7 linked regions of the Homo sapiens genome follow. The protein of the gene in region 3 purifies or fractionates together with the protein of the main gene of each other region. This does not show direct contact. Each region holds a gene or a part of one and is shown on either strand. Other genes may lie near its edges. The genes, in order: ASAH1, ECI2, HSF2, PLXNA3, DSG3, FBXO24 and PRCC.

Region 1 (2,308 bases), on a different chromosome or scaffold from region 3:
CACAAGGCCTGGTACATAAATGGATAAGCAAGAGCTCTAATTAAGATGAGTGACTGAGGAGCTCGATGTGTGAAGGAATACAGGTAGGATTCAGCCTTCCATTCACAATCAAACTCCCGAAAACTTGGCAGGGAAATTAGATGGAGCCCATGGTTTGGATCCAACCTGGACCTTATTTTTTTATAGTATTTCTAAAAATAGAGTCTCATTAATGTCCAATGGCTACTAAGTTTTGTCCTCTCAAAATTAAAATAGCACTTGCCATTATCCAGTAGGAACTACAGTCAGCATTTTGGTTAATATCCTCCCAGTCATCTTTTGATATTCTAGATGTGTATCTAGTTATGCATAAGTACATATATAAAGTGTTATATAAACAGGCTCATCCTGTATATCCTATTTTAAAACTGCTTTACCACTAAACAATTACTTCCTAAAATCTTAATACCTGTTATTTCTTGTAAACTTTGATTTACTCCGGAGAAATCGGTCTGAAACAATTAGCATCTCACCTCTTTACTATCAGGCATATCAAAGGTTATTACATTAACAAAAAAATACATCAAGTTGACCTGACTTCATTTATGTAAGAGGTAGAAAATCTGAGTAAAGTTTTTTTTTCATTAATTAAATCCTATTTTAATGTAAATCCTCTTATAATTCCTCGTTTCACTAAAGTAATCTTGGAATCACTAAAGTTTTGTGGAAGCACCACCTATCTGGGGGAAAAACTGCCTTTAAACACCTGCAAATTGGGTTGATAGTATCTGGTTAAGAGGTGGTATCAGTCATGTAAGAGTAAGATTGTGACCGTTTAGTCATATTTAATAACCCACTTACATAACCCTTGTTATTTAATTCAGATACGATGTTCAGCTTGTATTTCTTGATAATAACCCCCCTCCTCCAAACCAACACAGATGTACACACCCAATCAGCGTGCATGACTGCTGACTGGCACTCTTTCCAGTGACTGTTTATTGAGTGTCAGGAACACAACTGTGATTATACAAAATGAAGTGGACAAACGGTCTTGCACAAATGACGTACATTTCACAGTTAATCGTGAAGGTTAGAAAGGTTAACAAGTTCTATTAGTACTTTTCATAAGCAGTTTGATTTCTGAAAAATACAGTAACATAATTTTAGTAACTACTAAAATTTCTTTAAAACTCCCTATCAATCTGAAGAACAAACTAAAAACCTGTTTATTACATGAATGCTACTTATGAGAATTTAAAATATGGGTTCACTTCCTATTTTCCACAAGTCTTTGACTTGTTTATTTACTAAATTAACAGAACGTGGGATGCAGTTTTTTAAGTTAGCAACTTCCTTAGGGTTACTGGGAAGTAGAGTAATTATGAAAAAGGGAACACTTCAATTATTGTATAAAAGATTGCTTTGCATACTGATTACTTCTTGAACCCCAAAAAGTGCTATTTAGAGGCAAGGGCCCATTTTGTGCCCATTAAAAGAAATATACAGGTGAATGTCTGTCTCATCCCTCTAATCATATGTAATAAAATTATATCGCTGTCAATAACAGCAAAGATAATGATATATTAATTTTAACAGCAGTTAGAACCAGAAGGAAAAGGCTGTTATACAGAAAAACATACAAATATGTAGGTAGAAGTGAAAAACTGAAGAATGTGGAGTGTTTACTGTCCCGTTACTCACACAGACGTGCTGGATTCAACACCCACGCTGAATCTCCATTTATTCCACGGAGGTGGAGTTCACCATGGTTCGACTGCCCACCAGATCCCCAAATGTCAAAGTGAAACAAAACTCAGTGAATTCTAGATGACTGTTTTACTTCCCCTAAAGAAGTTATCTGTAAATAAGAAAAATCAACTGATAGGGGGAAAAAAAAAAGATCTGTCATTTGTCAACAGATGGACGAAGACAAGCTATTGACTCAAAGAGAACCTGCCGCGAGTCTTAGTCTTTGGAAGGTCAGACAGCTGCAGTGTTCGGTCACATGGAGATGGTGTCTTCATGTCTCAGAGGCCGCATTCTGTAGGCCAGACGTGTGCTCACCAACCTATACAAGGGTCAGGGCAGTCCCGCAGGTAAGTTTCGAATTGACCTTTGGTAACATCTATCAAGGTTGTGTATACGGTCAGCTGAAAGAAAAGTTATTTTTACTTTAAGGACGTTTTCAATTCAGAGATGTTCTGATATATATTAGCATTTCTATACTTGTAGAATTTGCTTTAGAAGTTATTTAATATTAAATAATATAACTTAATATATGCAAAGCATGTTATATAATGTATATATTTATATTAATATAGTATAA
Region 2 (3,500 bases), about 120 Mb from region 3:
GATTATCAGGGTTTCTCCCTCCCTCCCTCCCTTCCTCCCTTCCTTCCTTCCTTCTTTTTTGAGATGGAGTCTCATTGCGAGGCCCAGGCTAGAGTGCAATAGCATGATCTTGGCTCAACCTCCACCTCCCCGGTTCAAAAGATTCTCCTGCCCCAGCCTCCTGAGTAGCTGGGACTATAGGTGCGCACCACCATGCCCAGCTAATTTTTTGTATCTTTAGTAGAGATGGAGTTTCACCATGTTGGCCAGGCTGGTCTTGAACTCCTGACCTCAAGTGATCTGCCCACCTTGGCCTCCCAAAGTGCTGGGATTACAGGGGTGAGCCACCACGACTGGCTATCAGGGTTTCAATTTAGGTTTTGCTGCTTATTTGTTATGTGAACTTGAGTAAGTTACTTCTTAATCTAATTATTTTATTGTTAAGTAATGATAACAGTAGGCTCCCTGTGAGAATTAAATAAACTTCTGTGTGGAGAGTGCTGGCACTCATTAGACACTCTGTACAGAGTAGCTATTATTATTATAGTTGTAGAGAAATGAGTCAGGGGAAAGTGGAAATAAAGTTTGAGCATTAAATGCTTTATTAGTTGAATGACACATATCCTACTTCATGAAATTCTGAAGATGATTTTAAAGTGAGTATGCTCTTTCTGCCACAATGGAGGTTATTGACCCAATGGTCATAGTCCTCTGAAATTTTAGTCCCAGTTGAGCACCAAGCATCCAATTAATTCCCTATAATTTTTTTCAAGAAGAAGGGGCTAAGGTAGTTATTTTATTATCATTCTAGTTCAGTGAGAGATTCAAAGACTAACGTTACCGAGTGAAGCAGCTACTTTAAAGCGGAGCTGGGTGATAATTTGTTTAAGATGAAGTCCTTCTCTCCTTTCTCCCTATACTTATAAAAAATGAAGCCCCCGTGCAAGCAGAAAGACTTACTTTCATGTCTAAGTGACATGAAGATACTTCTGGGAGCAGTCTACACCAACCTTAGATGGCTTCTATGCAAATTCTCTCATAGCAACATGTTTCATTTATATTCATTTATTTCTGCTTCCATTATTAGGAAAATCACAGTGCCTTCTGGGTATATCAGAACCTACCTGAAATTCACAAACTCTAAACAATGAATGCTCAACTCTGTTGTATGAAGTAGCCACAATTACCAACCTTCCTGCACAAATCAAACAAGAGATATCTTAAAATAGGAATGATGCTGAAACTCTACAGCTTTTGTGTGAAACACATAGAAGAAGAAAGTAAAACAGGACAAACTCCGTGGGCAGGTAACATTACCTCAGTGTTTATGGCATTTTTCTTTTTGGGCCGGTTGAACATGATCTTTGTGATGCCATCTTCGGAGGTCACCACCAGAGTTTCAAACCCAGTTGATTTCCTGTCTGTTCCAGGCTCCACCTGACTAGAGGATTCCAATGAAGGACTCAAACTGGACACCAAATCCACATAGTTCTGCCTGGCAGCTTCCTGAACGGACGATGACAAACAACCTCAGCCCATGGTCAATGAATAAGCACTTTGAGAAAGTTACTATACTAATAACTAACACCTTGCAATGAAGAAAGAATAGAAGCACATCAAGATCTTGAAGACTCCATTTACAATGGCTTAATGAGAAGCACAAACTTCTTTAGAAGTACAGCAAATAAAAGCACAGTAACTAGTAAACTCACCTTGGGCAGGCTGCCAAGGGCATTCCATGCGTCCCATTTGGCCTTGTTGATCAAGTCAAATACACCTGGTTTGGGCATGTTACAAGGTCCTTCAGTGGCCTGTGAAAAGGAGAGGGGCAATATGTTCAAATGTCCATGTAAACTAGACCCCTAAATATTTAAGATCCATAAAATCTGTAAGTACATGAATGCCTCCCCCAAATCCTTTCACAGGGTATGTAAATTGATCTGAATTTTCCCCTCCAGTCTCTTTGATGTTGTTGCCAAAAATGCACAAACAGAAAAAAGACTGGAAATAAATTATAACTGCCTGTCTATGAAAATAATGCAGGATAAAGGTTTTGGGGAAGTATTTTCTAAAAAAATCTAATGGTTCATTAGTTTTATATTGGTAATCACATTTTCCACAAACAATCAAAATATTCAAGCAAACAATCTTTACAAGGAACTAGTCAACAAATACTTGAAAACCCACAGCATATTCCAAAAGCCCATCTGAAGGTACAAAAAAAAACACCACTAATTCAGTGGTGGACTTTTGGTACCTGGGTAACAAAACTGTAGCTGAGGGGCTAGGGTGGGGCTATCAGAGCTACTGGTTCTTAGGAAACCTAACTGAAGAACATGTAAGTAAAAAGCAAAAAGGAATTAAATTTTATTTTTGAGGCTAGGTGGAGTGGGTGTTTTGAGATGAATAAAATATCCCACTCAGCTACTTTTCAGAAATAGCAATTTAAAATTCCAGTTAAAATTTTTAAAATTTTATAATACAGTTAGAGAGGAAAGAAGAAAGAGTCTTTGAAAAACAAGCCAGGTGTGGTGGCTCACACCTGTAATCTCAGCACTTTGGGAGGCTGAGGTGGGTGGATCACCTGAGGTCAGGAGTTCGAGACCAGCCTGACCAATATGGTAAAACCCCATCTCTACTAAAAATACAAAAATTAGCCAGGCATGGTGGCAGGTTCCTGTAATTCCAGCTGCTTGGGAGGCTGAGGCAGAAGGATTGCCTGAACCTGGGAGGCAGAGGTTGCAGTGAGCTGAGATGGTGCCGCTGCACTCTACCCTGCGTGACAGAGCAAAACTCTGTCTCAAAAAAACAAAATAAAAACAAAAGAAAAAAGAAAAAAGAAAAAGGCAGTAAAGGAGGTTATGAATTTCTTTAGACAGAGATAGTGTCATCTGGCAAGAGTTGGCCAACCTAGAAGTTAGAGGGAACACAGTCCACAGGATAAGGGCTTGCCTTTGTCTCCTGACTGTCCTCAATGCTAACACCAATTGCAAGGCTGGAGGGCACCCAGGACCACCCTCAAGTGCAACAATTTGCTAGAAAGACACCCAGAACTCACTGCAAGCTGTTAAACGCACAATTAATAGTTTATTAAGGGAAAGGATAGAGATTAGAATCATCCAAGGGAGGACACACACAGGATGGAGTCTGGGGCAGTAGCAAATGTGGAGTTTCCATTGTCCTTTCCCCATGGAGTCAGCATAGGGCACCTCTACCAGAATTGATGTGACAGTACACAGGGAGTCCTGCCAACCAGAGATGCTCAGCTCATCCAGTCTCGGTGTCCAGAGTTTTTAACAGGGCTCCATCACCTGTGCATGACTGTATAACCTGAAGCCCCCACCCTAAATCACATCGTTAAGACAATCCAGGCAAATAAAGACTCCTACCAGTCATTAGAGATTCACTTCCCAGAAGCTGAGGGCAAAGCCACACCTCTTCTGGGGCAAGGTTAAATTTTTTACTATACACACCCATATGAAAGAGAAGCTCATACCCATCATAGGACAGAAAAATAGATA
Region 3 (3,500 bases):
ACCCCTTTTACAGATTTAGTAAAATATCTTATTTTACCAAAAGATATTATGCATTAAAAAATATATTACTGAATGTATTTCTGAATGCCTACTATGTGGGCATATTTATATTATTAGAAGAGACTTATTGTAGGTACTGGATGTACAATTACAAACTATAGAAAAAGTCTTCCAGGGAGCTCATATTCTAGCAGGAACTTAAACTTTTTTTTTTTTTTAAGCTAACTTAGGAAAAAAATACAGGGAAACAAGTAAAACTTTATTATCCTAATTCATCCCAACAAGGAACAGTTGTGCATTTCTGTACTTTCAACAGCTGAAATAAAAATCTTGGCCAAGCACACTCCAGGTCAATACCCTAATTAGCTCACGTTCACAATAGCTCACCTTCCTTTTAATGTTCTCCAACAAGTCATCCTGTCCTTGTTTGAAGTAAGGATGCTGAAATTCTACAGGACCATCTCTTTCTTGCTTTACAATTCCAGAGTCGATATGTACTACTTTACGGAAACCATCTGAAAAATATTCAAAATTCAAATGACTAAAATAAACAAGTCAAAATTTGGTGGTGCTTGTATGGAATAATTTTCCTTTACCACCCTAATGGGAAAAAAAATGGCTTCATCAGTAGCTGATAATGGTACTCCAATAAACTGCTGTCCATACTCACACATATTCAGTTGCCTCACAAAGCTTGCCATATTATTGTGCTTGAAATATTTGGGAAGAATTTCTTTTGCAAATCGTTGCTCATCCAAGACCAGAAAACTTTGGCCATTCTGCAAGGGGAAAAAAAAAAAGAAAAAGTAAATTAGTTAAGTTCCTATGACACATGGTGATATATTTATACATCCCACAACTGTCTTGAGTAGTCCAGTCCCTCCTTGATGTCTTCAGACCAACATTCTATTCTTGACAACAGGAACAAGAAACAAAATTGCAATTAAGCAACAAATTGCAACTAAGCTTTTTGATGTCAACCTCAAAAGTTTAGGAACATATCTCAAACCAAATGCCACATCACACTCTATGGTGAAATATTAGAACTTCCATTAAACCAGCAATGAGAAAATGAAATACAATTATGTAGACAGCATAATTAACATTGTTTTAAAACTAGTGCAATTAAGACCAAAATAAAAAAAAAAGATTTTGAGAGGAAGTACCATTTTATAATTATTTGCAGTAGACATAGTAGACATAATTGTATCTTTGTAAAATCAATTTAAAAACCCTTTAAGAATTCAGTAAGATACGTGGTTACTAAATTAATATTAAAAGTCACTAGTGTTTTTCTCTACAAAAAACAAACACCTGGAAACACTACAAAAATAAAGTAATCAAAGTAGCATGGTACTGGCATACTGACAAACATATAGATCAATGAAATAAAATAGACAGCCCAGAAATAAACCCTGCCAAAGGATTTTTGACAACAGTGTCAAGACCATTCAATAAAAAAAGGACAGTCTTTTCAACAAATGGTGCTGGGAAAACTGGATATCTACATACAAAAAAATGAAGTTAGACCCTTATCTGATAACATATATAAAAACTAACTTCAAATCAATCAAAGACCTAAACACAAGAGCTAAAGAAACTTTTAACAATAGTAGAGCATGACATTAGACTTGGCAATGATTTATTAAATGTAACACTAAAAGTACAGGCAACAAAAGCAAAAATAGACAAATGGAACTACATCAAATCTAAAGACTACCAACAGACTGAAAAGGCAACCCTCAGAATGGAAAGAAGAAAGTGCAAATCATATACCTCAGGAGTTAATATCCAGAACATAGACATAACTCTTAAAATTCAAAAAGAACAAAAGACAAAAAAAACCCAAACAACCCGATAAAAAACGAGCAAGGATGTGAGTAGATATTTCTTCAAAGAAGATATACAAACTTCCAATAAGCAAATAAAAAGATGGTCAGTAACACAAATCATTAGGGAAATGAAAATCAAAACTAAAACAATATACCACTGCACACCCATTAGAATGGCTATTATCAAAAACGCATAAAACAAGTGTTCACAAGGAAGTGGAGAAATTGGAATATTGGTGCATTATTGGTGGGAATGTTAAAATAGTGTGGTTGCTGTGGAAAACACTATGATAGTTCCTTTAAAAATTAAACAAAGAACATATAATCCAGCAATTCCATTCCTAGGTATATACTCAAAAAAAAAAAAAAAACCCAAAAACAACAACAAAAAAACAAAACAAAAAAAACCATAAAAGCAACGACTTGAACAGATATTTGTACCCCATGTTCACAGTAGCATTTTTCACAACAGGCAAAAGGTAGAAGTAACTTCAGTATCCACCAACACATGGTGAAATATATATGGATAAAGTATGGTATATACATGCAATGAAATATTATTTCACCTAAAAAAGGAAATTCTCACAAGCTACAACATGAAAAGAACTTTGAAAACATTATGCTGTGAAATAAGCCAGTCACAAAAGAACAAATACTGTACAATTCCCCTTATATGAAGTTTCCATAATAGCCAATTTCAGAGACAAAAAGTAGAATGGTGGTTGTCAGGGGCTGCGGGGAGGAAGGAGTTAGAAGTTATTGTGAAATGGGTATAAAGTTTCAGTGTGGAAAGATAAAAATTGTTCTGGAGATGGATGGTGGTAATGGTTGCCTAACAATGTGAATCTAACTTAATGCACTTAAAATGGTTAATTTTATGTTATGTATATTTTACCACAATTAAAAAAATTAGAAACTAAAATGGAATAAAATATCCCAATAATAATAGAAAAATGTTAAGTATCTAAAAATAAAATTTAAAAATATACAGGAACTTTAAAAATATTAAAACTATAGAAATACAAAAGGAAGACAAATGCAGTATTGTAAAGGTGTCAATTCTCTCTAAATTAACCAATACATTAAATTCTGTCTTAATTAAAAAAATGATTTGTGGAGTAAAGATGAATTGATGCTATCATAACCAAATGTTAGGTACATAAGTTCATTTGTAAAAATAATTACATAACAACAGGAAAGAAAATATTGAGAACAATGGGGAGGAGTATTTTAACCCTACCCAATACAGATTATAAAATTATAGTGTTAACAATTTAGTACAAAAGAAGAAGTGATTACATAGATGAATGGACTGACTAGAGAGGACAGATGAACCAGCAAATCTATCTGAGAATTTACCAGGTAGTAAGTCAAGATGGCATTCAAATGGGGGGATAATCAGGAAAGAAAAGGATTAAGAAATTTTCCATTTGGGAAGAAAAATAAGAGCTCGATGTCATCTTACTCTTTACAAGCAAGCTTTTGGAGACATGACATAATAAACCCAGAAGACATATAGATAAAATATAAATTTATCCATGGAGACTGCTAGCTTCCTACTCTATCTCTACTCTCCTCTACTTTCTTCCTAACAGAAACACAATTTTGATGAAAAACACATTGTGAAATTTAGAAGAGACCCAGACTCATAAATGAAGAATGTAGAGC
Region 4 (4,143 bases), on a different chromosome or scaffold from region 3:
AGACAGCATCCGGTGAGGCCCTGTGCCAACATCACGGGCCACCGCCAGCTTCCCTCTGCATCCCCCTCCCGCCTGGATGATCACAGAGGCCCAGGCCAGAAAGGCTGCAGAGGGCAGGGTGACCAGCCTCCCTGCACACAGGGGACCCCCGCAACCTGGGTTCAGGCTGTCATCCCACCCTCCGCAACCTGTCTGCATCCCAGACACTGAGGAGCCGAAAGTCCCCTCTCAGAAAGAACAGGGCTCTTCTGGGAGGCAGAGCCAGGACTGGGTGGAGGAAGAAGAGAAGGAAGGCTCACGCACGAGACTGAACATGTCCGCGCTGTCTTCATCACTGATGAGCTTGCGGGAGCTCAAGGTGGGGAAGTACTCCGACTTGCCGTCGACAGCAGTGCCCACAAACAGCTTGCTGGGCCCCTGGCCCTGCTCCACAATGACACCAGCCATGGAGTCGGGCTCCTGGGCCCCCGACAGGTAGTGCTCCTTGCGGTGGTGCGGCTCACCCAGCTTGAAGAGGTCGTCCAGACGCAGGAACTGGCAGATGCCCTGCCAGATGCTGCCGCAGGCCACCAGGCGGCGGGCCGCATAGTCTATGAGCAGCAGCTTGTTGATGTTGTCCACGGGGGCCAGGCGGTGGGCACACACGCGCATGCTGGGGGGCGGGTAGCAGCGAGCGTTGTCCTCGACGGGCCCCGTGACATGGGCCCGCAGCTCAGTCAGGTTGGGGGCCAGCTTAAAGACTCGGTTCACTGCGCCCACGAACACCTCCCCAGTCACCCGGTGCACAGCCAGGTGGGTAAGCGTGGTGTCTGTCACCACGAAGGCACGGAAGGGCCTGTTGCCCAGGGCCCCCCCCACGGCAAGGAAGAGCAGCAGGAGGAGGCAGACAGAGGGCATGGCCGGCAGCCGCGCCTGGGGACAGGCCTAGGGAGAGACGGTGTGTGGGAGTCAGAGGCCTCGAGCCACAGAGGGCTGGGCCATTCACCCACCACCCCGCCAAAGCCCCAGATGGCCACCGTGACAGGGAGAGAGGAGGGGCCTCCGCCAGGGCGCATGAGTGAGCAGCCAGCGAGGGCAGGCTTGGGGGCCATCAATCGTCCCTCAGCCCCCATGCTGGAAAGGAGCCAGGAGGCCTCGCCTCAGCTGGGCCACACCCAAGGGGGTAGCAGAGCAGATGCTGGAACTGGGACCCCAGATGCCACATCTCAGAGCCCGGGGCAACCAACAGCAAAGAACAGCAAGCCCCAGGCCTCTGGGCTGCCCCCAACGCCTGAGCTGAGGGGAGAGGGAGGCAGGCACAGAATAATCGCAAGCTGGGGGAGAGGGGCAGGGCCAGGAACACCACCTGGAGTGGCACTGCCACCAGGAGCCCTGGGACAGAGGTCTGGGGAATGGAGGCCTGATGCAGGATCCAGCACCACCATGTCCCCTGCAGGGGCCCCAGCTGCCTCCCCGACAAGGGCCTCAGCTGGCCATCCAGGAGCCCGCTGTCTGGCCTCCCCGATGCAACACAAAGCCAAGTCGCGCCTGCCCCTCAGCCACGCACCCAGACACACATCAGTCAAGCTCTGCTCAGCCACAGCCTGCATGGCTCCCCCTCCAGACCCAGGGGTTCACTGGAGAAGGGAATGTACAGGGGGCCCTACCTGCCCTTTGGAGTCCCAGGAGCCTTACAAGAGGAGGAGCAATGTCCCCAAATACAGTCAAGGCCTTGGAGAGACAGGGCAGGAGCCACAGGGACAGTGCTGGGACTGGCACTTAGTCCCCAGGCCACACCCAGTCAGCCCCAGGCTGCTAAGACAGCAGAGCAGTGTCGTGGCAGCCAACAGGGCAGGGCTCAGCGCTACCCTCTCAGTGCCAGAGCTCCCGGGGGAGATAGGAGGTACCCAGCTTGAGGGCGGGAGGCGGGGGGGGAGCGGGGGGTGGTGCAGGGAACCAAACCAAGGAGGCACAGGAGAGAGAAAGGAAAAATAAGGCATTTGCCAGGAACAAGCAGCGGGCCCAGCTTGAAACTGCAAAGTTTCAGCTCAGATTGATCACCTCTCCAGGGCTCTTTTGTCAGCTGGACCCCTCATGCAACAGCCGGAGAAGAAAGGAAGGCCAAAGAAAAGAGAGGCCACATCCTGTCTTCACCTCCTCTACACCCCGGGAACACAAGCCTAGGAACAGGCTGGGGACAGGTCGGGAGGGAGACCTGGGGAGGCAGTTTCAGGCCCAGCCCCCACCTGTAAGTGGCAACCTCGGGCATCACAGGTACAGCTGGGCCAGCAGAGAGCCTGAGGAAGGGGCAGCCCCACGCAGAGACGGGGGTCCAGCGGCCGCCCCCCACACCCCCCACCGTGCTGCTGGTCCGGTTTGCCCGGGCCCCATCAGGGCACCCCTCGGCGGACTCGCGGAGCCCTTAGCGGGAGGGAAGTACAGCGTTGATCCTCCGAGGGGCCGCTCCCCTGCGACAAAGGGTCCTCTTTGGGCAGGGTGTTGGTCTTGGGTTGGCGTCCCCACCATGCGGGGCACAAGGAGTCGGGCAGGCCGGCGCCGACGGGCAGGGATAGGGCCTGACCCCCACAGGCCGAGCCGGACCCCCGGGCTGCCGGAGCCCCGGGCCCCGAGCTGTTTGGCCCCGCACGGACGGCGACGATGACGGCCACCTACCTGTCCCTCCGCTGGCTCCGGGTGGCCGCCCTCTGGCCACGTGGACGCGCCCCCGAGCCCCACCGCGGCCCCGCTCGCACGTCCCCACGGCCTCGCCCCGCGCCCCGGGCCCCAAGCGCGCAGCCGCCGCCGCCGCCGCCCACACACTGGGCTGGCCCGGGGGCCGCCGGAGCCTTTTAAACCCGGACCGTACCACCGCGCGGGGCGGGGGCGTCCGGGGACGCCCGGCCGAGGGGGACGCGGCGGCAGGGGACGCAGGCGGGGCCGCTGCTCCCCGGGGCCAGGGACCTCGCGCGCAGCCCTGACCCCCGCGACCTGAAGGGGGACCCGCCCGGCCAGCCGACCCCCTTCGCTCGATGGCCGCGTCCGCGGCGCGCGCCTCCCCCGCGCCCCGGCTCCCCGCCCGCCGCCTCGGGCGACCCCGGAACCCGCGCGCGCCCGCGCCACACCCCCTCGGGCCTGGGGCGCGCGTCCGCCTCGCCCCACCCTGGCGCTCGGAGACGCGCCCGGGGTCACCTGCCACCGGGGCGCGGCCTCGCTGGTCCCGGCCTCTCAGGTGCACCCCCGCCGAGGAGTCGCGTCCCCAGCTCAAGACACGCCCCCGACGGTCTCTAACCCGGAGGGCCTGCGGGACAGCCGTCCAAACCAGCCCCTTCCCCGGCGACCCTGAACCGAGGGCTTTCTTCCTTCCCTTGCTTTCTTTTTCCTTTTCTTTTTTTGTTTTCTTTTGACACAGGGTCTCGCTCTGTCACCCGGGCTGGAGTGCAGTGGTGAGATCATAGCTCACTGCAGCCTCGACCGCCCCAGGCTCAAACGATGCTCCCGCCTCAGCCTCCCAAAGTGCTGGGACTACAGGTGTGAGCCACCGCGCCCCGTTAAGGTTTTCTTTTTCATTTCCCTGATGACTAATGGTGTTCAGCATCTTTTCATGTGCTTGCTGGCCTTTTGTATATGATCTCTGAAGAAATGTCTATTCAAGTCATTTGCCCATTTTTATTAAACACATATATGGAGAGATAGATAGATAGACAGATTTTTCCCCCCAAGTTGAGGTCGCGCTCTATCACCCAGGCTGCAGTGTAGCGGCATTGGATCATGGCTCACTGCAGCCTCGACTTCCTGGGCTCAAGGGATCCTCCTGCCTCAGCCTCCCAGGTAGCTGGGACCACAGGCAAGTGCCACCACGCCTGGCTAACTTTTCCTATTCTTGTAGAGAGAGACAGGGTCTTGCTACACTGCCCAGGCTAGTCTTGAACTCCTGGGCTTAAGTAATCCTCCTGCCTCAGCCTTCCAAAGTACTGGCATATGCTGGGTGCAGTGACTCAAGCCTGTAATCCCAGCATTTTGGAAGGCTGAAGTGAGCGGATCACCTGAGGTCAGGAGTTCGAGACCAGCCTGGCCAACATGGCAAAACCCCATCTCTACAAAAAATACAAAAATTAGCCGGACATGGTGTCATATGCCTGTAGTCCCAGCTACTCAGGAGGCTGA
Region 5 (3,500 bases), on a different chromosome or scaffold from region 3:
ATTTAAGAATTTCTTAGTTGTGGCTTAAGCTTGGAGGACTCTTCTGGCAGCGTAAATATCTTTCTGTGCACATCCTTGGCAATAAAGATTAATGTCATTCTCATGTGAACTGACCAAGAGTGAAATACTTATTCTTGAAAGCAGGTGTTTCCCACACTTTGTTGTCAGTGGCCCCACTGCCACCTCTGCCCTGCCAAGGCCACCTGAATCCTAATGTTTCAACTCTCTTCACTTAGAGGCAGCTTAGTGAGGGGTTTAAGCATGCAGCCTCCGAAGTCAGATTCTAGGGTTTAAATTTCGGCTGTACCACTTAACAGCTATGTAATGTTGGGCATGTAATATCATCCTTCTTTGCTCAGTTAACTCATCCATAAAATGGGGGAATAAATAGTATCTACATCATAGGTTGTTATGAGGATTGAATTAATATAGGTAAAGGCCCAACTCCTTAATACTATTTTTTTAGGGTTTAAGTTTCAACATATGAATTTTTTTGGGGGGACACACACATTCAGACCATAACAATTAATCTCCCAATCCTCTCCAGGGGCCACTGTAATGCACTGCACACTTGTCCTTTATTTTCCAGTCTCATGTCACAGCTCGAAATCTGACCTTCATCATCTCTCTTGAACTTTTACAATGACCTCTTAAGTGTTCTTTCCTTTCTAATTTACACTGTTATACTGTACACACTGTTGCCAGGGTTGTCTTTCTAAAATACAAATATGATCATGTTAGTCTTTTATTCAAATGCTTTTAGCAGCTCCTCTTTCTCATAGGATAAAGTACAAACACCACAGCATGTGTATGTAGCCCTTTCAAATTAGTCCCAATGCATTCTCTGTTGCTCCTTCACTTTCCACAATTTCCCCGCGCTTTAGCCTTCGAAGGCTGTGTGATTCCTAAAACAGAAAATACTAAGTGTTTTCTGGCCTTGGCTGATGCTGTCAATTTTTGGAAATGCCTTTTCCATTTTTTATACTGATTATATCCTAATCATTCTTCAAGGCTCAATTGAATGATTCCTCTATTCCGTGAAATGTTCTGTAATTACCCCTTTGTAGTAATTTCTATTACAGCTTTATCATGGTATTTTTCCCCTATAGTTAGACATGCATGAAAACCAAAATCAAGTTTCCTTTTCAGCTAGAAGCTAGCATAGTGATTCACATAGAGGTACTTAAAAATTTCTGGTTCTTGAACTTGATTAATACGATATTGAAAAACCAAATCTCTGAGTGTCAATTTCAGCTCTTAAACTAAATGGTGTATAATAACTTTAGAATAGTAAATGCTTTTGGAGAATAAGGAAGGGAAAAATATAGCATGTGTGGCAATTAGCTGTATCTATAGCAATTTATTTCTTTTTAAAAAAAGGGACCTGAAAAAATATTGCAAAACATTCATATCTGTTCAGTTGAAGTGATGGTTGTATGTGTAGTTGTCTACACATTTTCTCTACTTTTTGTGGTTTTAAAATTAATAATCATATAATTAATTTTAACTCTAAAACTGTGATTTTTATAATAAATTAAGAAAGTGTGAATTTAGCAAGGATTTCTCTTGTTTATACAAGAATTAGTCAGGAAGTTCTTTTAAATAGAGACCTCTTACAATCAAATACTATTTGATTTATATGATTTTGATTCAAATACAACTTTTCAGAAACCTATCTATTGAATAAATTTTACCTTTATTGGAAAAGGATACTTACGCATAGTTTTCTAAATGTGTTTAATAAACTTAGTTATATTAAATGTGAAAGTATTAAAGGGGATGCATATTCAGATGGCAATCTATTTTGAGGAAATGCTAGATGAAGCAATAACTTCTCAGAACCTAGCTATCTTAATAGCATATGATATTAATATTAATATCATATGCTATTGATTAATATTAGTGGGGGTTAATTAATTAATTAATATTAATAGCATGTGGTGATATCTTAATAGCCTATGATACCCTATTTGTATTTCCCTAACTTTGTTTGACTAGTGTTCTCTTTTTATCTTAGAATCTCATGAGATGTAATGAATATAGAGAAAACATCTTAGAAAGTGCCACACTCTTGGATAAAGCCATAATTTTGACCATGAACATTACTAACAGTGTGTAGAAAGTCTTCATGATTTGCTTTTCTCTTGATTATCTTGTGCTGTCTTCTAAATGTCTGACATATATAACTTGTGTTGCTATATGAATATAGACTGTTAGCAAGCGACATGTTACACATTTCAGATTCTTTCTGAAAATGCCATTTTCCCCTAGCTTTACCTATAAAACATCAGAGAATATTCTTTCCCCATTGCACAGATGAGCAGGGCAGCATGGAGGCCTTTGCAAATGAGGACACCTGGTCCAACAGAGAATGAAACATTGGCTACTCACACAGCAGCAGCAGGAGACCAAGGAGCAGCAGGCCGATGGCGGCAGGCCCCAGCCTCCCTGAGTGCGGCCTGCCATACCTGGTCCCAGGGCTTGTGGTTGGGTAAGAAGTTCCACAGATGCCCCTGTTGTCACACTGACAGACTTCCAGTGTCAAGCTGCGTGGCATCTCACACCGATTGTTCTGACTGTCTGTAAGTACCAGGGAGATGTGGTATACTCCAGGAGGTATCTGTTCCTGGGCTCTGAGGAGGGCCGAGGTAGCTGTAGAGAAAGAATCATGCAAATCAACAGTAGGACGAAGTGTCTTTTCAGTCTATTTTGTGTTGCTATAACAGAATATCACAGACTGGATAATTCATAAAGAAAACACATTTATTTCTCACAGTTTTGAAGGTTGGGAAGCTCAATATCAAGGTGTCAGAATCTGACAAAGGCCTTTGGACTTCATCATCCCACGGTGGAAGGTGGAAGGACAAGAGAGCATGAGAGCACGTGGGGGCTGAACTCACCCTTATAACAACTCACTCTTACTGTAATGAACCCACTCCCATGGTAACACCATTAATCCATGCATGAGGACAGAGCTCTCATGACCTCATTTCCTCTTACAGGTCTCACCTCTCAACACTACTGCAGTGGGGATTAAGTTTTCAACACATGAGCTTTGGAAGACCTATTCCAACCACAGCAGTGTCTTACACTCTTACTACTTATTTTCATTAGCAGAGTTAGTTGCCACAAACAATAGGGTTGATAATAGAGTGATGTTTGAGCAGTGATGAGGGCTATAATGGGTTCAAGTGGGTAAATCTGTCTACACCTGCCTCCTTGTCCTCTCTGTTGCAGGTAGGCCAATTATTCTCTCCCATGAAACTCAGTTCTACTCTGCTTTTCCCACTAAAGAAGATGGGCGACATCATTTAGAGTCAGGTACTCCTCTTCTGGGGCTTAACCACTCTCTTGTATGTCTGCACCAATCCTTGGACTTGTGTGGCCCTTTGAGTGTTAGTGTTCCTGACTTTGTGTTCTTGTGTTTTACTTATCAAGACTTTCAACTTTGGCTGCTACTACCTCAAGTGCTCTTCCTGGTTCTTATCCCGTGAGCTGCA
Region 6 (3,500 bases), on a different chromosome or scaffold from region 3:
CTCTACAGAGTTAGTGCTAAAAGGGCCTCAAATAGGAAAACTTCCTCCTGCTCCCTGAAATAAAGATGTCACCTACCAGTAATTCACACTTTATTTCTCCAGTAAAATGCATATCCCTTGAGCCATGTGATGGCTAGAACTGAGCTAGAACCCAGGAGCTGTCTAAGAGATGGGTCCTGGGCAAGATTAAAGGGAACAGGTCACAGTGGCCAAACAGTGAGGTCACAGAGAGGTTTGTTAGCCCCAGACTCCATGGGGGAGGGGCCTAGGAGGCAGAGGGGCCTCAGAGGTCCCCCAAGCCTAGGCTGGGGACATGGTGTGGGAAAGCCAGCAGGAACGGGGGGGCCAAGGGCCTAGGAGACAGGAGGGCAGGAGCAGGGAGGGGGCAATCAGGATGGTCAGGGGAAGCCAGAGACGGAAGCTGCAAAAATTCACCAGGCTGTGTGGACGGGAGGAGGGGCTCCGGGTGAGGGGGATTGGCCGCAGGAGATCGGGAGGAGTTATTTGGAGAAGTTAGGGATGGGTCTGGAGAGAGAGGGGAGGAAATAACTGTGCCCAGCTAGAGTCAGATGAGCCCCAAGGTAGGCGGAGAGAAGGGAAAAAAGGATGTGGGACCCTCATGGGACCCTATGCACCCCTTCTTGGGTAGGTGAAGAGAAGCTGCCCTTCTTGTGGCTCGGAGCTTGGGGTTGAAGAGAAGAGGGGGAAAGGAAATCCGATTTCCATCCAGTTGTTCCCCCCAGAGCTGGTGAGTCCTTGGGGAGGGGGATTGAGAATAATAGGATTGGGGGCCAGATCACCGAGGGGCCACCAAAGACTCCCCGCTTCTTCCCTCCTCCCTCCCAGGTGGAGCATATCATCTCATTCCTCCCAGTCAGAGACCTTGTTGCCCTCGGCCAGACCTGCCGCTACTTCCACGAAGTGTGCGATGGGGAAGGCGTGTGGAGACGCATCTGTCGCAGACTCAGTCCGCGCCTCCAAGATCAGGGTTCTGGAGTCCGGCCCTGGAAGAGAGCTGCCATTCTGAACTGTACACCTTCCCCAGAACCTCCCGTTCTCCTTGCCTCTGTCCCGCCTTAGCCTTCCTGCTCTCTAAAGTCCCCTGATGACCCCCACACTCCCAACAGTGCTTCCAGGGCCCCTTTCTCCGGAAGAAACGGGTCCAGTTCAAACATTCTCCCTTGAGTACTTCCTCCAAGTCTTCGGAATCCACCCACAGCCCCCGTTAGCGGCCTCCCTGCCAAGTCTCCCTCTGTACACAGACACTTCCCGCTTTTTCCCTAGAGGCATCCCTCACTCCCCAAACCTGGAGTTTTCCCTCCTCTAACCCAAGGCTTCTGAACTCACTGTTGATATTCTGGGCAAAATAATTCCTTGATGTGGGGAGCTGTCCTCTGCATGGTGGGATGTTTAAGCAGCAACCCTGGCCTCCACCCACCAGATGGCCAGCAGCATCCCCCTTAATTGTGACAACCAATGCCCTTGAAGGACAAAATCACCCCTAGCCTGAGAACCATGCCATAAACCCTCTTCCCCTCCAGGGATCCCCCAGGGTGTACTTCTTACACTCACTGGGAGATTAAAAGAGAAGGGGGACCCAGAAAACAGATCCAAAGCTAGGGGTGAGGGAGGATGACCGGCCTTCATCAATCATTCCTTTTCACTCCTGTTTCTGTCTCTTCTCTTTTCTTTCTTTTTCTTTGATTTTTTTTTTTTTTTTTTTTTTTTGAGACAGGGTCTTGCTCTGTCACCCAGGCTGGAGCACAGTGGTGCAATCTTGGCTCAATGCAACCTCCACCTCCCGGGTTCAAGTATTCTCGTGCCTCAGCCTCCTGAGTAGCTGGGATTACAGGCTCCCGCCACCACACCCGGATAATTTTTGTATTTTTAGTAGAGATGGGGTTTTGCCACGTTGCCCAGGCTGGTCTCAAACTCCTGGGCTCCCAAAGTGCTGGGATTACAGGCGTGCAAAAATTCACTGAGCTGTGAGGATGGGAGGAGGGGCTCAGGGTGAGGGGGGTGGATGCCGCACGCAGCCTCTGTGTCTTTATTCTTAGAGTTTTCCTCAACATCACTGATGCAAGGTTGCACCAAAGAACTGCTCACTAAGAAGCAAATGTTTGACCCTGGGCTGAGGTGGGGTGGAGACTAAAGTTCACATGTCGAGTATAATCTAAGCTTATTTTCCACATCTCCTTCATAAGGGGTCTGTTTGTTCCCCTGTCCTGGGGATGGGGAGGAACTACAAACCAGCGTGTCTAAGAAATCTACCCAAGCTCCAACTCATCTCCCTCGTGTCATCTCATCCCTTGAACCTTCCATCTCCTTCCTTCCTCCAGACACGAAGGGCCTGTATTTCCAGGCATTTGGAGGCCGCCGCCGATGTCTCAGCAAGAGCGTGGCCCCCTTGCTAGCCCACGGCTACCGCCGCTTCTTGCCCACCAAGGATCACGTCTTCATTCTTGACTACGTGGGGACCCTCTTCTTCCTCAAAAATGCCCTGGTCTCCACCCTCGGCCAGATGCAGTGGAAGCGGGCCTGTCGCTATGTTGTGTTGTGTCGTGGAGCCAAGGATGTGAGTAGCAGAACCCTGGCAGCTGAGAGCCCACCTGTATTAGTCCATTTTCACACTGCTATAAAGACGTACCAGAGGCCGGGTGCAGTGGCTTACACCTGTAATCCTAGCACTTTGGGAGGCTGAGGCAGGCGGATCAGCTGAGACCAGGAGTTCGAGACCAGCCTGGCCAAATGGCGAAACCCGTCTCTACTAAAAATACAAAAATTAGCTGGGTGTGGTGGTGGGTGCCTATAATTCCAGCTACTTGGGAGGCTGAGGCAGGAGAATTGCTTGAACTTGGGAGGCAGAGGCTGCAGTGAGCTGAGATCGCACCCTTGCACTCCAGCCTGGGCAACAAGAGGGAGACTCCGTCTCGAAAAAAAAAGACATACCTGAGACCGGGTAATTTATAAGGCAAAGAGGTTTAATTGACTCATAGTTCCACATGACTGGGGAGGCCTCAGGAAACTTACAATCATGGCAGAAGGGAAAGAGGCACGTCTTACATGGCAGCAGGCGAGAGCACACAAGCAAGAGCAGGGAAAACTGCCTTATAAATCCGTCAGACCTCGTGAGAACCCACTATCACGAAAACAACATGGGGGAAATTGCCCCCGTGAGCCAATCACCTCCCACTGGGTATTACAATTCGAGATGAGATTTGGGTGGGGGCACAGAGCCTAACCATATCACCACCTCTCTTTTGAGGACCCAGGCCCCCATCAGTCTTGAGGTGTCTTTCCTATGACTTCTGCCCTCCCACATAGGAACCTGAAATCAAGGGCTCATTTCCCAACTCTGGACCCAAGCATTTCACTTCCCACCCCAGGATCCAGCTGCCCCAGCCCCATCCCATTTTGAAACTCTAGATCCCAGACGCCCTCATCTTTTCCCCCAGTTTGCCTCGGACCCAAGGTGTGACACAGTTTACCGTAAATACCTC
Region 7 (3,500 bases), on a different chromosome or scaffold from region 3:
CCTGAGGGTGTGCTCCGCCCTGTACCTCAGTGTGGTTCCTATGAACCGGAGCCTCTGGGCGCTTCCAGGCTGGACCAAATCTGTGAACACACACACAGCAAGAAGAGCCCAGTCTCCACATGAGCAGTTCTGTGTGGCTTGACTCAAATGTCTTATTTACTCTGGGCATTTCTTGGCTGAGAAGGCTGGAGTACACTAGTACTCTAAGACAGTGACACAGTGACCTTATTCCATTCTCCTTTTCCAATTGGCATTTCCCTTAGCTCTACAGTTAGGCCAAACGGGCCTTTTAGCATAGAGAAAGCAGAATCTGAGAGATTCTTTTGGGTAATAGGAACTCTGGATGGGCTGGGCCAGTGAGCTTACAGATCAAAAGTTAAATGCTTGACTCTGGCATTAACAAGCTAATATGCCACATCTATAGGGCTTTCCTTGGGTAGGGTAGGGGACTTTCTTCAGATTAAAAAAATACAGCATATATATATATACACTCATTTCTGGCTGACAAAACTACCTCTGTATGTATGATGGCACTAAAGATACTAAAATTACATATTTTTGTAAAAAGCAGTAATGTCTTAGATTAGGGAAATTTGCAAGCTGAGTAAGTCTGAAAAGAACTGAAGATGATCTTATAAAAACCCTTTCAGTCAGCTAATGTAGAATTCTATGGTCTTAAGTAAAAAATACCCTTAGGCCGGGCGCTGTGGCTCATGCCTGTAATCCCAGCACTTTGGGAGGCCGAGGTGGGTGGATCATAAGGTCAGGTGTTGAAGACCAGCCTGGCCAAGATGGTAAAACCCCGTCTCTACTAAAAATACAAAAATTAGCCAGGCATGCGTGGTGGTGAGCACCTATAATCCCAGCTACTCGGGAGGCTGAGGCAGAGAATTGCTTGAACCTGGGAGGCGGAGGTTGCAGTGAGCCAAGATCATGTCACTGCACTCCATCCTGGGTGATAGAGCGAGACTCCGACCAAAAAAAAAAAATACCCTTAGCACTTAAGTCCTAAGGGAGCTGCCCCACCCAAGCTGAGGCTTCAGGTTCCTATCTAAGGGGGGGAAAAAAAAGAGAAAGGAAATCCTGTTTCCTTTGCTTTGGGGATGGTGACAAGGAGAGCAATTTAAAGGGTTGGAAAAAGCTGTGTCAGGCCCCTTGCAGTCTCTGGACTCACTGCTTCCTTGTTGAACGTGCTGGGCCTCCACTCTTTCCTAGGCGTCATTAGCGCTGCTGAGGGGTCTCGCTCAGGGTTAGCTTTCTCCCTTGGTCAGGGGAAGGGACTTTTTTTTTTTTTTGAGAAGGGGTCTCACTCTGTCACCCAAGCTGGAGTACAGTGGCATGATCTCGGCTCACTGCAACCTCCGCTTCCTGGGTTCAAGCGATTCTTCTGCCTCAGCCTCCCAAGTAGCTGAGATTACAGGCACCCACCACCATGCCTGGCTAATTTTTGTATTTTTAATAGAGACGGGCCTTCAGTATGTTGGTCAGGCTGGTCTCAAACTCCTGACCTCATGATCCGCCCACCTTGGTCTCCCAAAGTGCTGGGATTACAGGCGTGAGCCACCACTGCCCAGCCGGGAAGGGACTTTTGCAACAGTATGAATGTTTCTTTTAGACAGAACCTTGTTCTTGATTTTGGGTAGCATTCCAAAGGAAGGAGAGGGTTCTTGTGTTAAGAGGTCCCTTCAGGACACGGAGAGAGGTTGAGTGATGAGCTGGAGAGACCTGGGCTTTTGGGGAGGAAGGACGATGTGAGGTTAAGAGCATCGTATTTGTTGAAGACACAGAGTTGAGGAAGGCTCGCTCTGTGGAAGAGGGCAGTGGAGCTGGGTTGGGATGGAAGAGAAGAGGAATGATACCTCACCTTGGGAGAAGCAGCCCGCAGAAAGGCCTGAAGTAGCAGGAGTCAAGCCCAGATTAGGTGGTCTGAGTGGACGGAGGTAAGGAAGAAACAAGGGCTGGTAAGATTTTAGGCTAGAGAACTTATCTGTAACTGTTGTTTTTGGTGTTGCTAGTACATAAAATCTCACTTGTCATCTTTCTTTCCTCCTATCCCACACCTGGGCTCACCAGGGATCCAGTGAGGGGACTGGTTTGTCTGCCTTGCTTCCCCAACCTAAAAACCTGACTGTGAAAGAGACTAACAGGTTGCTCCTGCCCCATGCCTTCTCCCGCAAACCCTCGGATGGCTCCCCTGATACTAAGCCCTCCAGACTGGCTTCTAAGACCAAGACTTCCTCTCTTGCCCCTGTTGTGGGCACCACAACCACCACTCCGTCGCCCTCTGCTATCAAGGCTGCTGCCAAGAGTGCTGCCCTGCAGGTGACAAAGCAGATCACGCAGGAAGAAGACGACAGTGATGAGGAAGTAGCCCCCGAAAACTTTTTCTCCCTCCCTGAAAAGGCTGAGCCACCTGGAGTTGAGCCATACCCTTACCCCATCCCCACTGTCCCTGAAGAGCTGCCTCCAGGCACGGAACCAGAGCCGGCTTTCCAGGACGATGCAGCCAATGCCCCCCTTGAATTCAAGATGGCAGCAGGTTCAAGTGGGGCCCCTTGGATGCCTAAGCCTGGGGACGACTACAGCTACAATCAGTTTTCCACATATGGCGATGCCAATGCCGCTGGTGCTTATTATCAGGTGGGTAGGAGGCACAGAGGGCAGGCGAGGGAATGTTGGAACATGGTGGTCAAGGAGAGCTTTGAGCTAGTGATACAGCCTCTGTGGTGTCACTTTGGCTAAATTAACCTTCTCTATTTATTAGGCCACAGAACATACCTTTATTCTGAACCATATTAATCTAAATTGCCCAAGTCTTAAAGTGTGACAGGGTGAACCACATAAATGACATCTTTATTCTGAAAACAATCTATTTATTTTTTATTGATCCATAATATTTGTACATATTTGTGATTGATATATATATATATATATATATATATATATATATATATATATATATATCTGTTTTTTTTTCTTCCTAACCTTTATTTTAGGTTCAGGAGGTACATGTACAGGTTTGTTACATGGGTAAATTGCATGTCACGGGTTTGGTGTACAGATTATTTTGTCACCCCAGGTGATGAGCATAGTACCTGATAGGTAGGTTTTTGGCCTTTTTTTTTTTTTTTTGGAGAAGGAATCTCACTCTGTTGCCCAGGCTGGAGTGCAGTGGCACAATCTTGGCTCAGCTGCAACCTCTGCCTCCCGAGTTCAAGTGATTCTCCTGCCTCAGCCTCCCGAGTAGCTGGGACTACAGATGTGTGCCACCCTAACATGCCCAGCTAATTTTTGTATTTGTATTTTATATTTTTTGAGACGGAGTCTTGCTCTGTTGCCCAGGCTGGAGTGCAGTGGCACGATCTTGACTCACTGCAACCTCCGCCTCCCAGGTTCAAGCAACTCTCCCACCTCAGCCTCCCAAATAGCTGGGACTACAGGCACATTCCACCATGCCCGCTAATTTAATTTTTGTATTTTTAGTAGAGACGGGGTTTCAC

Evidence for each region.
Region 1: the proteins of HSF2 (region 3) and ASAH1 purify together in Homo sapiens (affinity purification with mass spectrometry; 2 studies listed by BioGRID and IntAct, with this or other methods). This does not show direct contact.
Region 2: the proteins of HSF2 (region 3) and ECI2 purify together in Homo sapiens (affinity purification with mass spectrometry; one large-scale study listed by BioGRID and IntAct). This does not show direct contact.
Region 4: the proteins of HSF2 (region 3) and PLXNA3 purify together in Homo sapiens (affinity purification with mass spectrometry; one large-scale study listed by BioGRID and IntAct). This does not show direct contact.
Region 5: the proteins of HSF2 (region 3) and DSG3 purify together in Homo sapiens (affinity purification with mass spectrometry; one large-scale study listed by BioGRID and IntAct). This does not show direct contact.
Region 6: the proteins of HSF2 (region 3) and FBXO24 purify together in Homo sapiens (affinity purification with a luminescence readout; one large-scale study listed by IntAct). This does not show direct contact.
Region 7: the proteins of HSF2 (region 3) and PRCC purify together in Homo sapiens (affinity purification with mass spectrometry; one large-scale study listed by BioGRID and IntAct). This does not show direct contact.

Annotation. Positions count from the first base shown.
Region 1 is NC_000008.11:18,055,492-18,057,799, forward strand, and holds the end of ASAH1 (acid ceramidase isoform a preproprotein), read right to left. Parts: intron 2,133-2,308; coding exon 2,043-2,132; 3' UTR 501-2,042; downstream 1-500. UniProt on the Homo sapiens protein: Lysosomal ceramidase that hydrolyzes sphingolipid ceramides into sphingosine and free fatty acids at acidic pH.
Region 2 is NC_000006.12:4,129,076-4,132,575, forward strand, and holds part of ECI2 (enoyl-CoA delta isomerase 2), read right to left. Parts: intron 1,791-3,500; coding exon 1,692-1,790; intron 1,691-1,691; exon of another isoform or gene 1,486-1,690; coding exon 1,297-1,485; intron 1,287-1,296; exon of another isoform or gene 1,067-1,286; intron 1-1,066. UniProt on the Homo sapiens protein: Able to isomerize both 3-cis and 3-trans double bonds into the 2-trans form in a range of enoyl-CoA species. Has a preference for 3-trans substrates.
Region 3 is NC_000006.12:122,409,652-122,413,151, reverse strand, and holds part of HSF2 (heat shock factor protein 2), read right to left. Parts: intron 780-3,500; coding exon 671-779; intron 516-670; coding exon 388-515; intron 1-387. UniProt on the Homo sapiens protein: DNA-binding protein that specifically binds heat shock promoter elements (HSE) and activates transcription. In higher eukaryotes, HSF is unable to bind to the HSE unless the cells are heat shocked.
Region 4 is NC_000023.11:154,456,938-154,461,080, reverse strand, and holds the start of PLXNA3 (plexin-A3 precursor), read right to left. Parts: upstream 2,801-4,143; 5' UTR 2,653-2,800; intron 925-2,652; 5' UTR 898-924; coding exon 304-897; intron 1-303. UniProt on the Homo sapiens protein: Coreceptor for SEMA3A and SEMA3F. Necessary for signaling by class 3 semaphorins and subsequent remodeling of the cytoskeleton. Plays a role in axon guidance in the developing nervous system.
Region 5 is NC_000018.10:31,468,241-31,471,740, reverse strand, and holds part of DSG3 (desmoglein-3 preproprotein), read right to left. Parts: intron 2,653-3,500; coding exon 2,392-2,652; intron 1-2,391. UniProt on the Homo sapiens protein: A component of desmosome cell-cell junctions which are required for positive regulation of cellular adhesion. Required for adherens and desmosome junction assembly in response to mechanical force in keratinocytes.
Region 6 is NC_000007.14:100,589,328-100,592,827, forward strand, and holds part of FBXO24 (F-box only protein 24), read left to right. Parts: intron 1-73; exon of another isoform or gene 74-313; coding exon of another isoform or gene 314-466; exon of another isoform or gene 467-649; coding exon 650-748; exon of another isoform or gene 749-755; intron 756-846; coding exon 847-1,030; intron 1,031-2,339; coding exon 2,340-2,575; intron 2,576-3,455; coding exon 3,456-3,500. UniProt on the Homo sapiens protein: Substrate-recognition component of the SCF (SKP1-CUL1-F-box protein)-type E3 ubiquitin ligase complex.
Region 7 is NC_000001.11:156,784,535-156,788,034, forward strand, and holds part of PRCC (proline-rich protein PRCC), read left to right. Parts: intron 1-2,073; coding exon 2,074-2,640; intron 2,641-3,500. UniProt on the Homo sapiens protein: May regulate cell cycle progression through interaction with MAD2L2.